2 separate regions of the Homo sapiens genome follow, and region 2 is linked to region 1. The links come from fine-mapping of genetic effects on gene expression. A gene starts in region 1. The other region holds a variant in brackets. All regions are shown on one strand. Distances are from middle to middle.

Region 1 (5,379 bases):
CCTTGTTGGGCTTGACAACTCCTACACACCCTTGAAAACCCACCTTAAATACCTCTCTGACCCAGGTTCACTATTCCCTTCTTGTCTTGCCCTTGCCCTGGTCAATGCTGTATCTTATTCTGTTGCAGTGGCTTTGTGACATATGTGTCACTCTCCCCACCAGACTGGTCATCCCTGAATCCCTCAAACAATGAGAGTTGCCTGAATGTCCGAAGCAAAGAGGAGAGATTTTTTCCAACAGCGACCCCAGGCTGCAGCGTTCCTCTCCTCCCCAGCCAAGTTTCTGGCAGGCAAGAAACTGGCCCTGAATTAGCTTCAGCATCCCCCTTTGCCACCATTTATGTCCGAGCTGTGAGGCACACATCTCTCATGGGTTCATTTTTTCCTTGCTTTGCTTTTGAGAATTATGAAAGATCTTCGGTCTCATTGCTCGAAGGTGGGGAGGGTGCCTCAGAGCTGCTCATTCAAACCGTGAAAAAGGCCAGCTCAGCCCTGCTTGGGAGTTTTCATTTTGTGTAACAGAAACCCTCCCTCCTCACCCACCTCTTGCTCCTTGCTGGGCAGATGAAGAGCAGAACAACAGATCCTCCAAGGCCCACCCACCCCATCAACGGCCCAGAGAGCCCGTTTTGAGTAAAGCTTGTCAGCGGCTTCCCCTCCTACCAGTATTTCGGGTTTGACCGTTGGGGCTCTCTCAAGTTGAGTGAAGTGGCAAGAATATCCCTTCTTCCTGGACCAGAGATTACCCTCTCTCCCTGCATCAAAGCCTAGGAGTCTAGCACCCCTAAACCTAGTCTGGGGTAAGACACTCTGCACATCTTCCCAACCCCCTGTTCAGTCATGTAGATGGCTTGAAATCAATCAGCCAGGGTGGGAGAATTTACACCATGGAAATTGGCAAGCACTACAAATTCAGGACTTTCCCTCCACCCTGGAGTCAGCTACCAGTGCTCCACCCCGGGGAGCTGCTTTTCAAATGCCCAGTAGCACACCACTGGGCACTGCTTGGTTTCCTTCCTGGAGGCCAGTATGAAAGGCTGGAGCAGGGTCTTCTGTGGGTGACGTCTGTACTGTGGGATTGTGATGGGGGGTGGTGGAGGGGGTGCAGGGGAGTGGGATTTAAGGGTAGATTGGCTGGGAAATGAGGCATTTGGAAGAGATTTTCAAAAACTAAACTCTACGGAGTTCTTGATACGGTGTATTCATTCATTCCGCAGACATTTTCTCCTCACATCCTCAAAGCACCTGAACCTGCCTTTCAGGAGTTCACAGTCAGTGGGTGGGGTGACCACTTTAACCCTTTCACAGCTGTTTGCTGGGTCCAGATCCAGCGTTCAGGGCAGGCGGGAAAGTAAGAGATGAAATCAAGGAGGCTGTGGTGTGGCGAGGAGGGGTGTGAGGACAGCACCAGGGAACCTTCACTTTTTAAAGCCAACCCTTTGCGGCTTTGAGGCCGCCGTGGTGCATTGTTTGCTGGTGAGACAAGCCATCTAGGAACCTGGTCTTCTTAGCCTCAGCCTGGTCTGACTCCACAGCTGAGATTTATAAAGGGGGCGTCTGGAGCTGGATGAACCACTCAGAACACCCTCAGTGCTTCCCCTTGACCCCTTCTAGGTTAGACCTGAGAAAGGGCTTTCTAAAGAGTAGAGTTATCTGCCGGGGCAGAGTGCGTGAGGTTTGCTCAGGGGCAGGGGCTGTGCTGAAGGCCTGGCTATGATTTCTCCAAGCTGAGTGCCCCTTGCCATCCCATTCCATGTTGCCTGCCCGTTCCTTAACTTGCAAGAGGCAACAGCAAAGCCAGATCAAAGCAGGTGGGATGTGCAGCAGAGAGAAAGCAACCAGAGCTTGCATTTGCAATGCACCGCACCATTCTCACAACCCAGTCACGTTTCATTTGCATCTCCTCATGACCCCAAGTGGACAGGTATATGAATATTTGGCAGGGGAGAAAGGTGGGAATCAGAGAGTGGGTAAAAGGTCCTAAGCTCTCTAGGGAGAATTTCTCTGTTGAAACCTGTCCCCAGAGGTCCCAGAGGGCCTAACCTATCACCCTCATGATGAGAACAGGTTCTGCCAGACCACCAAGCCCAGCCCCGCCACTCTCTTATGTCCCTGCTGTTTTAGAAAGACATGATCTCGGCCCCTCCCTTGTCCCCACTGGCACCAAAGGCTGACCCCTTCTCCAGGTCTGAAAGGGCAGGTGCACCCCTCCTGGGACAGCAGGGGGCATTCTCTGGAAGTAGCTTCCAATGCCCACCAAATCAGAACTGATTTCTCCAGGAAGCACCCCTATGCGCTCCACCCGCATCCTCCACCCCCATTCCACAGGGTCAGTCTGGGTGTCCAAGACCCTGGTACTGTTCCTTCTCACATGAAGAGGCTCACTCACCCAGGTCCATGACGCTCTCTGGGCGGTAAAACCACACAGGAAGGCTGTGCCCGGCCTCGCACTACCCCTGTCTGGGGAGGAAGTGGTTCAAGCCCCTTTTAAGTTGTCGGAGAAGCCACCCTCTTCCCTGCCCCTCCCACCCTTGCTCCTCCCCCCAGCCCTCCCTGACTCATGCAGGGCCCCTTCAATGCCTTCAGAGATAAAGGGGCAGAAGAAAGGTGACAGAGGGTGACAGTCGCTGGTCATAGGATCCTGAATCATTAGGTCATTTACATTCAAAAAGCCCCCTGCGCTGCCTGGCAGAATCTAGATGAGGGGCCATTTACTGATTCAACAAATATTTATAGCATGAATATCACATGCCAGGCCATGGGTTAGATGTTGGGGAGTCAGAGATGTGTGAGAGAAGTGTCCCCATCCTTCCCTTGCTCTGCTCAGTGTCACAGTGGAATATAGTCCCAAATGGCTTTCCCTCTGGCTTCTGGGTAGTTTAGGCCAATGGGAGGCACTGACACATAATGACAGGTAAAAGGGAAGAGATATGCCACGATGTATCTTTTTTCTCCCCCCTTCCCCTCCCCTCCCCTCCCTCCCCTTTCCCTCTTCTCCCCTCCCTTCCTTTTCCTTTCTTAATGACAGCTTTATTGAGCTATAATCCACATCCCATAAAATTTACCTTTTTAAAGTATAGAATTCAATGGTTTTTGTATGTTCACAGAGTTATGCAACCATCACCACAATACATTTTAGAACATTTTTTCTCACTCCCTCTCAAGAACCCTGTAATCACTAGCAATGACTGCTCCCCTCCCCTCCTGTCATCGAAAGCCCCTGGCAACCACAAATCTACTTTCTGGCTCTATAGATTTTCCTATTCTGAACATTTCACATAAATAGAAGTATCAATATGTGACCTTCACATCTGGCTTCTTTCAGTTAGTGTTTTCAAGGTTACCTATGTGGTGGTATGGATCCATTCCCCATTCCTTTTTATGGCTGAATAACATTCCATTGTATGGATATGCCACATTTTGTTTGTCTGTCATCAGTTGGATGTTTGGGCTGTTTTCCCTTTTAGCTATTATGAATGATGCTGCTATAAATATTTATGTGCAAGTGTTTGTGTGGACATATGCTTTATTTCTCTTGGGTATATACCTAGAAGTGAAATTGTTGAGTCATATGGTAATTATATATTTAACATTTTGACGAACTATCAAACTGTTTTCCAAAGTGACTACACCATTTTGTTCCCATCAACAATGCGTGAGGGTTCCACATTGTCAACAAAACTTACTATTGTCCATTCTTTTGATTCTAGCCATCCTAGTGGCTGTAAAGTGGTATCTCATTGTGTTTTTTTTCTTTTTTCTTTTTTTTTTTTGGAGATGGAGTCTTACTCTGTTGCACAGGCTGGAGTGCAGTGGCACGATCTTGGCTTACTGCAGTCTCCACCTCCTGGGTTCAAGTGATTCTCCTGCCTCAGCCTCCCAAGTAGCTGGGACTACAGGCACGTGCCACCATGCCTGGCTAATTTTTGTATTTTTAGTAGAAACGGGGTTTCACCATGTTGGCCAAGCTGGTCTCAAACTCCTAACCTAAGGTGATCTGCCAGCCTCGGCCTCCCAAAGTGCTGGGATTGCAGGCATGAGCCACCATGCCCGGCCTCTTTGTAGTTTTGATATGCGTTTTCCTAATGACTACCTATGCTGAGCATCTTTTCATGCTCTTATTGACCATTTGTATTATTTTTTGAGAAATTTCTATTCAAATCCTTTGCCCATTTAAAAAATTGGGTTATTTATTTTTTATTATTGAGTTGTAAGACTTCTTTATATATTCTGGTTACAATCCCTTATCTGATACATATCTGTAAATATTTTCTCCCTTACTATGGATCATCTTTTCACTTTCTTGATAGCGTCCTTTGAAGCACAAAGGCTTTTTGTTTTTTAAAACCTGAATCTCTGGCAAAAGAAGCGCAAAGTTTTAAATGTGGAGGTTCAATTGATTTATTTTTCTTTTGTCAATTGTGTCTTTGGTGCCATATCTAAGAAACCATTGCATAATTCAAGTATACAAAGATTTATTCGTATATGTTCTTTTAAGACTTTTATAGTTTTAGCTGCAACATTTAGATCTGATCCATTTTGAGCTAATTGTTGCATATGGTGTGAGGTAGGGATCCAGCTTCATTTTTTATATGGATATCTAGTTTTCCCAGCATCATTTGTTGAAAAGACTATTTTTTCCACCATTGAACTGTCTTAGCACCTCTGTTGGAAATCAATTCATCATAAATGTAATGGTTTATTTCTAGACTATCAATTCTATTTTATCAATCTCTGTGTCTGTCCTATGACAGTACCACACTGTCTCGATTACTGTAGCTTTATAGCAAATTTTGAAATTGGGAGTTGTGACTGCTCCAACTTTATCTGTCTTTTTAAACATTGTTTGACTAATCTGCATCTCTCTCTTTTCCATATGAATTTTAGGTTATCAATTTCTGCAATGAAACCAGCTGGGATTCTAATAGGAATTTCATTGAATCTGTAAATCAATTTAGGGAGTATTGCCATTCTAACAAAGTCTTTTGGTCCATGAACATGGGATTTTTTTCATTTATTTAGGTCTTCCTTAATTTCTTTATACTTTTTAGGCTGCAAGTCTTTCACTTCTTTGTTAAATTTTTTCTTAAGTATTTTACTCTTTTTGATGTGCTTGTAAATGAAATTGTTTTCTTAATTTTATTTTCAAAGATGGCCAACTAGAAGCAGGTATGGGGCATGGCTCTCTCAGAGAGGAACAAAGGGGTGGGTACTTCAAAACCTTTATCTGAAACATCCAGATACTTGCATTGGGACTGATTAAGGAATCAGCTCGACCCACAGAGGATAGAGGAAAGCAGGGCAGGGCAATGGCCTACATAGGAGCAACACAGACCCAAAGGAAACCCCCTCCCCTCCCCCCACCAGGGAAGTGGTGAG
Region 2 (5,379 bases), 36 kb after region 1:
TTTCTACAGCTGAGAAATCCAAAAATAAACTTGAATTATGGTGGGTTTAGCACCGAGGCACTTCTGTGTAAATAGCAGAAGTGAAAAGAAAAAAAAGGCCATCTCATTTCTAGTATTTGAAACCAAGCACCCTCATCGTGTGGGCGACTCATAGTAGAGGGGGCAGGGGGAGCGAGGTTTGGCATTTTTTCTCTGCTGTTTTTGTTTTTGTTCTGTGATGATGTGGGGGACTCTCCAGGGACATCATGCGTCACAGAGCAGGGGAGAAAGGGGAGGTGAAGACAGAGCAAGTAGGGAAATTTGATCCGGTCTCTGACGTTGTAGGGCAGAATTGGGGAAAGAGGGAGTGTCGGTCAATGGGTGGAAAAGGTCCCGTGGCTGTCATGCCCTTCTTACCTCCTGCCCCGAGACACAGTTGGGCAAGTCCCTTAATTCATTTTTCAGTGAGTTTCCCAAGAAAGGCCGTCTTCCGGAACATGTGTTATTCCTGAAATACATGGCAGACTCGGTTGAAAGGGTGTGTGTTTGTGGGTCACAGAGACTCACAAAAAGAGAAGGCAAGGGGCTGGCCCGCTTGACGTGAGCCCACATGGATGGGAGTCACAGGTGATTATTATTATTATTAACAAAAGGCTTCCCTTACCTCCCCAAACCTAACTTTTCACTATTCATACCATCCATGTCTTATAGGCCCAGGGAGATGAAAAAGTGAGTTTACCCAAGGGAATTCACAAGGGCCTAAGTAGAAGAGCCAGGATTTGAACTGGCTGCCCCTTTCTCTCTATGGGGCTGGCATTGGCCATCCTAATAATGGGGGAAAAGTTGGGTTAACGACCAGCGGCCTGGGGAATTCAGGTCACCTTGATGTTTGCCCTATGGTCTTGAGTTTTGCAACTTAAAAAAACAAAAAACAAAAAACTATACACACACACACACACACACACACATTATCTATCTACCTCTATTTTTTTAAGACAAGGTCTTGCTTTGTCACCTAGGCTGGAGTGCAGTGGCACGAGCACAGCTCACTGCAGCCCTGACTTCCCATGTTCAATTGATCCTCCCACCTCAGCCTCCCAAGTAGCTGGGACTACCAGCACATGCCACCACACCTGGCTAATTTTTTTATTTTTTGTAGAGGCAGGGTTTCATTATATTGCCCAGGCTGGTAAATGGACATATTGACATTACAAGTCGATGTTGTTTTTATAGAAGGAGCAAATAATGCAAAAGGGACCAACTCATCAGTGAAAACATATCATACCATGCTTGGTGTTTGCCTTGGCTAGAAGTCTCTGGAGGTGAATTTATGGAGAATGCATTCAAGCTGCCTCCCATTCCCACTATATAGATAACGAGAGGAAGGGGTTTAAGCTGCAATAGGAGGCTGTTGGAGAGACTCAAGGAGAAGCTTCCTGACCGTAGACGGTTGATAAATATAGGAGCCACTGGAGGGTGGAAGCAATAACTTTCCAATCCCCCGAGCCTTCCAGCATTTTTTGGTGTTTGCCAAATATCATCACCTCCTACCTCTCACCAGCGCCTGGACTCAACCTTTCTAGAGCCAGCTCAAATGCCACCCCTTCAGACTTCCCAGCATTGCTGTGAGGAATCGTGGGCTTTTCTTTCCTGCTCCCAGTGTGACTTTGGTACCTTTATTTAGCATCTATATTGTCCTCCCTTGACTTAAAGCCAAGTTGTTAATTCTCCCCTTTCTTGAGTTCTTAGAGGGCAGGGATGCATTCCATTCATCTTTATCACCAACACCTAAGGTGACACCTGGCACATAGTCAGTGCTCGTTAAAGGTGTGCTGAACTTTGAAACGAAGGGTTGCCTGTTGGTGGTTGAAAACATTTTTTTTTCGAACCTTGTTAAGTTTGAAAAGTTCAATCCCCAGTGCCAACATGCATATAAATATAGGTGCTTTCATGCTCTGTTGATGGGAATGTGAACTGGTTCAACTTTTCTGGAGAGTCATTTGGTAAACATTTAGGAGAAGTCTTAGAATTTTCTATGCCTTTTGACTGAATTCTTTTTTTTTTCTTTTCTCCTAAGGAGTTAGTGAATGGCTTTTCATAAAGACATTGTATTTTTTCATAGCAATGTTTTTAAAAATTATAGCAAAAATGGGGCCAATATTAATATGAATTTGGATAAATAGTGGTTTATATGCAATAGAATGTCATGTAGCCATTACAATTGATGATATATTTGTTAATCAAATAAGTAAAGTGACAAAAACATTACAAAATAGGAAGCATAGTAGGATTTCAATTTTGAAGGAAAATAAGGCTCTATCCATGGAAAAATGCCTTGAAGGATATACGTCTAAGTGTTTCAACCCTTTTTCTCTAGGTGGTGGGATTTTAGGGGATTTTGACTTTCTTCTGTTCATTTCTCTGA[G/A]TTTTCTCAATTTTCTCCCATGTGTTACAACGAACATGCATTACATTTAGAACATAGAAAAACATTTTCCAGCATCTTGAGTTGATTCTCTAAGTAAATTCCTTGCTCCTTAAATTCTGAAAACTGTAGAGACCAGATCAACGTGTAGGATGTCAGAGGTGGAAAAGCTGTGGGAAGTCCTTTGGGCCAGAGTTTTGCAAAACTGGCTGTGCGTGAGAATCACACGTGGGGCTTTCAGAACTCTGGCTCTGCCCATACCCAGTGGCAATAAATCAAAGTCACCAGGGATGGCTGCAGGCGTCAGAGTGGTTTAAAGCTCCCAGGTGATTCTAATATGCAGCCTAGTTTGAGAACCCTGCTTTTGAGTTGTGCTGTCTAACAGTAGCCACTAGCCACACGTGGCTATTTAAATTATGCAACACTAAATAAAAAATTCAGTTCCTTAGTCAAAGTAGCCACTTTTTTCTTTCTTTTTTTTCTTTTTTTTTTCTTGAGACAGAGTGTCACTCTGTCACTCAGGCTGGAGTGCAATGGTGCGATCTTGGCTCACTGCAACCTCTGTCTCCCGGGTTCAAACAATTCTCCTGCCTCAGCCTCCCAAGTAGCTGGGACTACAGGCACCCGCCACCATGCTCGCAAAGTAGCCACATTTTAAGCACTCAGTAGTCACATGTGTGGTTAGTGGCACTATATTGGGCAGTGCAAGTTAAGATCTACCTCTCACATTTCAGGAGAGGGCTGGGCATGGTGGCTCATGCCTGCAGTCCCATCACTTTGGGAGGCTGAGGCAGGAGGGTTGCTTGAGCACAGGCATTTGAGACCAGCCTGAGCAACATGGTGAGACCCCTATCTCTACAAAAAAAAAAAAAAATTAGTCAGGCATGGTGGCACGCACCTGTAGTCCCAGCTACTTGGTAGGCTAGGGTGAGAGGATCGCTTGAGCTGGGGAGGTCAGGGCCGTAGTGAACCATGATCATGCCGCTTGCGCTTCAGCCTGGGCAACCAAGTGAGATTCTGTTTCAAAAAAATTTTTTTCTTTTTTTTTCAGGAAAGGCTTTTGCAGGTGGGTGCCCTCCTTCTAGCAGGCCTGAGGCTCAGGGAAGGGGCAGGCCTCTGTTCTTGCCTGTTTTAGGGCGGTGGAAAAGACCTCACTCGGCCGTCAGGAGAGTAATCTTGTGCCTAGAAAGTTCTTTCTGCTTTCTCGTGTCTACCCCATCCTCCTCCCTGAGCATGGTGAAGCTCAGTGCAGCATGTTTATTTTCAAAGGCTTGACAGGCCCAGGCCCTTCCTATCTGTTCAGCCTGGTCCAGGCCACCAGGCAAGCTGTTTACAAGGGATCCAAGTGCTCGGTGGAGAGCAGAACAGGCCGAGAGTGTTTTCCACGGCTGCCGAGAAAGATGAGCGAGTGGAGGCAGAATAACAAAAAGCCACTTCAAAAACACACCAGAAAAAGTCACAAAGCAGAGACAATCAGAGGTTTGAGACACACACACCCCCAAAACCCTGACAAGAGAGCGAAAACAAGTCATGAGGGAGCCTCTGATGGTTTCAAGACAGTCGCGGTTGCTGATTGAGAACAGGCCTGTCCCAGCAGTTCTCAGAGGAGTCGGGAGCTGCGGCTGTGGGGGGTCAGAAACTTCACCTGAGTTCTGAGAATTGTGGTGGGACAGTCCCTGAGGGCTCCGTCTCTCTGGGAAGATGGTGGGGGGCGGGTGAGAATGGCAGGCCCATGCTGGCTGGGTGAGAGTGTGAGGCTGTTCCAGCCTAGAGACTGGCCACCGGTCAGGAAGCAGAGTCCCACCTGGCCCCAGGCTTCTGGCACCTACTGCCTGAGAGCGTGAGGCCTCTATGGCCATAGTCCACCTGGGAATTCAAAGGCGTAAGGCCACCTGCATCTAGGAAGCTCCTTCTTTGGGATCTGAGCTGAGGACCCAACAGTGAAGAAGCCAAGCCAGAAGGGAAACGCTGGTGCTCCGCTCCACCTTGCCCCATTTTGCAGTGAAGTCCAGTGAAGAGAGCCCTGGGGGTGGAGCACTGGAGCTCAGGTCCCAGGCACTATCACTCCCTTGCTGTGTGACCTTGGGCAGGTCAGTTTACCCCTTTGGACTTTAGTTTCTTGACCTGCAAATTGGAGGGTTGGTCTAGATGAATGGCTTTCAACCCTGGCTGAATATTGGAATCACCTGGTGAGCTACAAAAATCAACATGATGCCAGTTGTTCTGGGATACACCCTGGGCATCAGCATTTTTAAAAGCTCTTCAGATGATCCCAGGCCAGGTGTGGTGGCTCACGCCTGTAATCCCAGCATTTTGGGAGGCTGAGGCGGGCGGATCATCTGAGGTCAGTTCGAGACCAGCCTGGCCAACATGGTGAAACCCTGTCTCTACTAAAAATACTAAAATTAGCCGGGTTTGGTGGCATATGCCTGTGCACGAGAATCACTTGAACCCAGGAAGCAGAGGTTGCAGTGAGCGGAGACCGTGCCACTGCACTCCAGCCTGGGTGACAGAGTGAGACCCCGTCTCAAAAAACAAAACAAAACAAAAAAAGAACCATTAGTCTGCCTAATGCTTATCAAAATTTAGAGTGCACAGGAGTCTTGTAAAAATTCGAGTGGAATTCAGAAAGTCTAGCATAGAGTCTGAGATTCCACATTTCCAACAAGCTCCCAGGCGATGTCCATGGACCACACCTTGAGTAGCAGCAAGTCTGTGTTGAATGTCCCCTTCCCTTGAACTTGCAAGTTGGATCCAAGCTCCAATCTACTCAGTCTGCTACTGTTCTTGTTTTGGTAGCTGGCTGTAGTTGCCTATTTCTGCCAATCTGCCAATAACATCATTGTTTCTAAGTTCTTTCTTTCCCCCCACCCTCTCTCACAAGAATTGTTTAAATCCTCACTCATCATTTGAATTCTAATGAGATGCTGTGGATTGAATCAAATAGGGATCTTCCCTTCAAGGGCAGTAAATAAGAG

Evidence for each region. PIP is the estimated chance that this variant, and not a neighbour inherited with it, causes the effect. A credible set is the group of variants that fine-mapping cannot tell apart.
Region 2: its variant is the best candidate, but not a certain one, in a credible set for the expression of CCR7 in whole blood (TOPMed, PIP 0.60).

The regions. Positions count from the first base shown.
Region 1 is chr17:40,563,011-40,568,389 of GRCh38, forward strand. CCR7 (C-C motif chemokine receptor 7) reads right to left here and starts at 2,462. Exons shown (of 3, transcript NM_001838.4): 1 at 2,390-2,462. The coding sequence starts at 2,399. RefSeq lists an enhancer at 1,101-2,017.
Region 2 is chr17:40,599,103-40,604,481 of GRCh38, forward strand. No RefSeq gene overlaps it. Among named protein-coding and RNA genes, the nearest start is that of CCR7, 36 kb to the left of the region's middle. RefSeq lists enhancers at 1-296, 3,635-3,894. The variant G/A (reference allele first, on the strand shown) is at 2,405.